Homo sapiens: one gene and its partner. The protein of the gene in region 1 purifies or fractionates together with the protein of each later gene. This does not show direct contact. Each region holds a gene or a part of one and is shown on either strand. Other genes may lie near its edges.

Region 1 (3,111 bases):
CCCCAGCCTGGGCAAGAGTGGAACCCTCCCTGTCTCAAAAAATAATTTAAAAAAAAAAATAACAGAAAACAAGTTGCCTCTATAGGAGGGCCGAGCTCTGGTGAGGAAGTGTGAGACCAGTTTCCATAGCAACCCCAGTCTGTTTCTCAACAAGAGGTTCCAGCCAGCCTCTTGCCACATATGAGTCATAACTCAAGTGTTTTGTTTGTTTCCCTTGGATAAAAGTGACTCCGATTTTTAATGGCTCCTCTCAAAGATTAACATCTCTTCACTAAATACAGAAGAATTCCATATGTAATGAATTTCCAGCCTCCATGAAAACAAAATGGACTCTTTCATGCTGTCTCAACATATGAATACATTGCTCTGTCACCTGGGTGTTATTACCGACTTAAATCTGAAAGAAGCTGGGCACGGCAGTGGTGTGTGGGTGCCTGCAGTCCTGAGGAGCTGGGACTGTTTCCCGAACAATGCCTTTCCACCACACACGGTGGTTGTGAGGGCCAGCTGAGGCAAAGCCCTCAGGAAGACCACTCAAGCCCAGGAGTCCAGCCTGCGCAAGACAGTAAGACCCCTTAAAAAAAAAAAAATCTGAAAGAAAATATAGAGCCAAATCTTTAGATAAATGCTTTATTATTTTCTCAAAATGTTATAAAAGTCATTTCTCCTTAGTACAGAGAGCTTTATACATTTTATCTAGTAATGAATACAATCTAGTTTAACACTCATCTATTTTACTAACATTTCCTTAATTTTCAATTCGTATTTTTCCTTTTCTTTCCTGATTTTAGCTTTTTTTAGGCTTCTGTCACCACAAAATGTTACTTGGAAAACTAGATCCCAGCAGATGACCTGTACTTCTCTGCTCTCTCCCCTACTGCAAAGAGGCAGTGAGGGCAGCATTAGTAAGCCTGACTCAGGGGAAGGTAAGTGGCCTGCAGAGAAATGGTCCTAGGTCCGCAACCGAGGCGAGTGAACTTGTCGGACAGATGAAGACTCTAACTGGAAGAAACGATCAGCGCATTCACGGATGCACCACCATCCAGAAATCTCCCGGTGGCTTCCATACAAAAACTGATGTTTCTAAAGATGGAAAGAACAGGTCTAGGAGGCAGAAGAGTATCTCCTAGCAAAGTGTTCTGTAGCTCAAAGGGTGAGTGGGCTTTGGTAGCAAAAAGCTTTGAAGGCTTCACCCTGGGTGAATCTGACAAGGGCTGGAGCCAGACGGGACCTGCAGCACCTCCTCAGCTTGGCCTCGTCTCCCCTGACCCCGCCTCCGTGCATGCTGCCTCAGTTTGCCTTCTCAGCAGAGAAGCCCCCACCACCAGGGGCTGGGCATGCCCAGGGCAGGTGTGGGGCCTGTAGTGGGGCAGCAGCAACTGGTGGGTGCCCCTCTAGTGGGCGCTCAGCTCACAGCTGCTCAAATGGGAACAGGTGGGAAGCTGCTGCTTTCTTTTCCCTTTTGGTCTTCTTGGGCCCACCCTTCAGCTTCTGCTTTTCTTCATCTTCTCGGTTTTGAGGCCAGGAGGCAGCCAGTATCCTGGCCGCTTCTGCTTGAGAGCTGGTCCCCTCCTCTTCATCAGAAGAGAGTCCACCTCCTGCATCTGTGTGGGGAGCTGCTGCCTCACTCTGGACAGGTGGCAGTGGTGGGAGGACACAGGCGAGGGTTAGTAATCAGATACCAGGAAGCCCCATGAAGAGGCAGCAAGTTCCCAGCCTGCCCTAAGCTGTGTAACTCTGGGAGGACAAGGGCATGGGACAGGGCAGGGAGAGAGCCCAGACCCTTCTTACTGAGCCGTCCCAGCCTGGGGTGCATCCAAGCAGACACTGGAGCACCTGCTACGAGCTGAGTGCAGGGGAACACAAGGATGATGGCTGGGCAGGAAGCTGCCCTCTAGGAGCACACTGCCTCATCTGGGGATGCCTGTGATTCGTGCCTTGCATTTGCTACCTCATTTCTGGACCAAAGCACATGATGTCTTGAACGGGCAAGATGCACAGTTCAGCCCTCGGAGCCCTAAGATCTGAGGCGGCACTCCCTGCCAGCTGGGATGGCTAGGGAGGGTTTGGATGGAGAAGGCGGCAAGGAGCTGGTCAGAACATAAAGTCAGATGAAGGGCTTTTCTCCACCAGAGGGACTGGAATGAGGAGCGTGACAAAAAAATGTTGAAAGGCAAACAGGCAGCACAGAGGGTTGGAGAGAGGGAACAAAACATGCCAGAGCAGTTTCTGCTGTGTCTGACACAGCACTGACTATACCATGTAACTGGGCCTAGGGTCCATCTGCCCCAGGGAGGGGCCCCCTTGAGGGCTGCATGTCAAATTCACACCTGTGTCCAAGCCTGGCCTGGCACATGGCAGGTGCTGTGAGAGAGGTACTGAGCGGGCCACTGCAGGCCTGCAGCATGGTCACAGGCACTGGGAACACTGGAAGGCGGAAGGGTGCACCAAATGCAGGACACTTGGCCCTCCCTATGTGTTCAGCGCCAAATCAGACCCATGGCATTGCTCATGTGGACAGTAGAAACGGGGACACTGGGACAGGGCTTGGGGCAGAAGAGCCAGCTGAGGCCTCACTCCAGGGACACCTTTCCCAACAAGGTAAAAACAAGCGGCCTTAGAGACAGAAGACTGAGGTGTCCTAACACAAAGCTATCCCTGACTTGAGGCTGGGGCAGAATCTGGGCCAGGCCTTTCTGAGCTGCATCTCCAAGAAACTGACCCTGAGCTTGTCTTCTCTGCAAAGAACCTGCACTGACCTTGGGCCCGTAGCGACGCTTCAGCCTCTCCCTGATGAGCAGACCTTTGGCCAGCAACTTCCAGTTCCCTAGAGCCCGCTTCTCCTTTTTCTGCAGGCAAAAATGAAGTGGGAGAAAAGTGTTAAGCACTGACATTTTCAGGAAAAATATTAAGATGGAAACTGTGAATGTAAAGACAGATATATACACCACTTTAGAATATAGCCTCTCCTTCACACCAAGTCTCACTTCCAAAAAATTGATCTGATTTACAAAGTGATATACTATACCTGAAAGCCACAAAAACAGATAACTTTTTAATCGTTACTGACTCCAAAATCTTTAGTGGGTGAGGTCTTCCAGAACCTGGACA
Region 2 (3,756 bases), on another chromosome or scaffold:
AGTCTTAAAGACACTAATTCCTAAAATATCTATGTTACTCACTAGCCTCAGGCTGTCTTGACTCTAAACTTAAATTAAATATATTTTAAAGCTTTTTTCCAGTACTAGGAAGAGTCTATAATAGTTAACTGCCAAACTTCATCCAGATATATCTGTGGAACAGTGTCCTTGGGTAGTTCATAAAACTAGGACTCAAATGTTATGATTTAGAATCATCTGTCCCAAAGTATAAAACATATTAATCTGTGGTCAGTGATTAGTTAAAAATAATCAACAAAAGGGGTAATACATAGTTCCTGAATGATTCCCAAACAGTAATACATTTTTATTTGACACCTGGTACTCTCCATAGGTAGCCTTAAGATAGCTAAGATACATGTTGACCCTGTCAAAAGGTTAATCTTTTAGTGTCAAAGCTGAAGTTTAGCCACATCTATTTATTCTAGAAGGAACCCAGTATTTCTGCTCTGTTAATAACATAGAACAGATGGGGTGTCAGGAAAAAGTGGAGGTGGCATGGGATTCTGGTCCCAACTGCCAATAAAAATCACAATTTTTGGCCGGGCGCGGTGGCTCACGCCTGTAATCCCAGCACTTTGGGAGGCCGAGGCGGGCGGATCACGAGGTCAGGAGATCGAGACCATCCCGGCTAAAACGGTGAAACCCCGTCTCTACTAAAAATACAAAAAATTAGCCGGGCGTAGTGGCGGGCGCCTGTAGTCCCAGCTACTTGGGAGGCTGAGGCAGGAGAATGGCGTGAACCCGGGAGGCGGAGCTTGCAGTGAGCCGAGATCCCGCCACTGCACTCCAGCCTGGGCGACAGAGCGAGACTCTGTCTCAAAAGAAAAAAAAAAAAAAAAAAAAAAAAATCACAATTTTTAAATTGTGTTCATTTAAGGTGAAATAACATATTTTGTAAAATTATTAGTGATGATACAGTGCTTACAATAGCCTTTATGAAAAAAGTCAATAAAAAATATACACAAAGTCTATTTTATGTCCCAGTGATGCATATATGATTATTTCGAGCCCCTGAAACAAAGACAATTTTTTAAAGTAATAATAATAGCAAATGCTTAGTAGCACTTACAACATGCTAGGCCCTTTTCTAGGTACTTCACATATCATTAACTTAATCCTTAGAAGAATCTCATGAGAGAATACAATGATCCCCACTTTATAGTTGAAAATGAGGCATGGGGTATTAAAAAGACCAAGTTCCAGAGCTGTAAAGTGGCAAAACCAAGGTATGAACCAAGGGAATCTGGTTCCAAGTGCTAAACCACTATACTGTACTAAACATACCTGGATTATAGCTCCTTCCTAATAGTACCATTTCCACTATATACAAACACCTTGTTTCTACAAATAAACAATCTAAGGTAAAACTAGGAATACTACGATCATAAACTTCAGGAGAGTGTCCATTCTGGGAGAACAAAAGGTGGCTCTCTCCCTTTCCTCAAATAATTAATTCTACAAATTAGAGGAAAAAAGGAAAATGTCCCCAATGGACAAGTTGCCTCTCTAAACAGTCATATATTAGTTCATAAGTTGAGGATCTTCTGTGCTGTGTTTTTTTTCTCTTAGGTTCATCATTTATTTTCCATCTCAACTGCTTATGACTTGAGCTTTTGGATTTAAAAAACTGACTAATGACATGAATCTAAATTTTCTCTGCGTCTACTAATTGCCATTTCTTTTTGCTTCCCCTATTGCTTCTTGATTAATATTTAAAATAAGGGGTTTGTGTATATAGCAGAATTTGTTTCCAAATTTTTAAAATATCTTAAAATACTTATATGATGTGCTTATATCGTGACCCATTGGTTTAGAGAAAAAAAAAAAAAGAAATAAACCTGAATATTTACATATTTTGTAGATAATATTCTAGACAATACATTTAAGTTATAATAGCAACATCCTTGCCTTCCGGACTCTTCTATTTTGAAAAAGCCTGGTCTATATATGCTATAAATAATTCACTAAAATCAACTATAAAAAAATTTAGCCATATTAAGCCTATGACACATTATCTTCAGTTGGTGGTACTAGGATGTTTTCTCCTGCTTCCAGTATGCCCACTGCCTCCTTTACTACTACCCTCTAAACAGATGACTTTATCCACTGAGATCAAGGTCATCCAGAGGATGTAGCCTCTCATAAACTTTGTCAACCTGAAGTCGTGCATTTCATCTACAGCCAAAGATACCAACTACTACCAGTTCCCTCTTCTCCCACTTAGCCAACAAAAATCACATACCAGAAAGGTCTTGGGAAACATTTTCCAAACAGCAGGATATCAAATTTTCTGTTTTATTAAGCAAAAATAATTTTTTGATCACCCTTCAAGTTTTATCACATAATATAAATACAAACAACTTGGAAAAGCATCTTTCTATAAAAAGCTACACAATAGTTCCTTGGTTAGAATCTTCACAACAAAACAAAAGACAAAACTATAAATCTCAGAGCAAAGCCATATTTTTTCTTTGAAAAAAAAACCAACAAAACAAAACTGAGTAAGAGTCACATTATACACCAGTGTTCTATAAGAAAATTCCATAACCTAGAGAATTTAAAATTTAAAAAGTGATATTAATCAGACAATTTCCTAACAGCTGCTGATTACAAAGACTATTAAAATACACACCAACTTCATTAAAATCTTCAAAGGTGATTTTCCCTGTGGCTTCTCTGTCATAATCTTTAAGAATCTTCAGTACATCAGCTTTTTTTACATCAAACCCCAAGGCTCTCATTGCCACCTTTTGGATTAAAAAGGAAAAGCAAATTATAAAGCACTCTTTACAAAAGAATTTCTAATTATTAAGTTTTTACATCTTAAGAGATGACAACACATTAATAAAATATAACTTTTTTGCATGTTTTACCTCTTTAAAATAGCAGTGATAGTGTAATTGTTCTTCACTACTGAAATTAAGTATGCATAAGTTTTTTCATTTATAAATTGCATTTTTTATATGACAAAGTAACCAACAAGTGTTTACAGATTTTACTATATAAAATGCACTAACTTATTGCACAGATAATTTGATTGTTATTTGTTCTGAAGGGATTAACAATCAAAATGAGAAAAAGGCGTGGCATAAATATTAAACAGTTACATGATAGAAGAGATAAAACATTAAAACAAGAATTATCATCAGTCTTTCCATGATTAGTTACCAGGTAAATGATAGGGCTAAGGACCCTGAGTTTAGAGAAAAAAGAGATTTTGTTACTAATAATAAGGAAGGAGACATATTACTGACTAGAGAAGTCTTATTTGGAAAGATTCAAACTGTTCCTTGAAGGATAGATGAAGAGGAGCAGTAGGGTATTTGGGAAGGATGACTGGTATTAAAAGAAACACTGAAACGAATAGGTTCGAAGGACAATGAACAGAGCAGTTTACCTCACCTGAATTAGAAAAGTTCAGGTGAGGTAAACTGCTCACCTGAATTAGGAGGTGAATTCCACCTTAATTAGAAGAGTTCAGGAGGAAGAAAGCAGTTAGCAAATGAAAAAAGTAGTTGGTGGCAAAAGTGTAGAGAACATTCAGTAGAAAGCAAAGGAATCTGAACTTTAAGTAGTATACAATGAGGAGTTATGGTTTATGAGCAATGAACAATTTATGAGCAATGGTGAAAGAATTTTTAAACTATCTAAATTCAGTGGTAGTGTACAAGGTGAACTAGTAAGAAATCATTTAGGAAGCTCCAGGTATGAAATAAGGTCCCAAACCAAGATAGT

Evidence for each region.
Region 2: the proteins of XPC (region 1) and CETN3 purify together in Homo sapiens (affinity purification with mass spectrometry; 5 studies listed by BioGRID and IntAct, with this or other methods). This does not show direct contact.

What each region holds. Positions count from the first base shown.
Region 1 is NC_000003.12:14,144,531-14,147,641, forward strand, and holds the end of XPC (DNA repair protein complementing XP-C cells), read right to left. Parts: exon of another isoform or gene 3,043-3,111; intron 2,850-3,042; coding exon 2,760-2,849; intron 1,630-2,759; coding exon 1,411-1,629; 3' UTR 617-1,410; downstream 1-616. UniProt on the Homo sapiens protein: Involved in global genome nucleotide excision repair (GG-NER) by acting as damage sensing and DNA-binding factor component of the XPC complex. Has only a low DNA repair activity by itself which is stimulated by RAD23B and RAD23A.
Region 2 is NC_000005.10:90,403,032-90,406,787, forward strand, and holds part of CETN3 (centrin-3), read right to left. Parts: intron 2,769-3,756; coding exon 2,654-2,768; intron 1-2,653. UniProt on the Homo sapiens protein: Plays a fundamental role in microtubule-organizing center structure and function. As a component of the TREX-2 complex, involved in the export of mRNAs to the cytoplasm through the nuclear pores.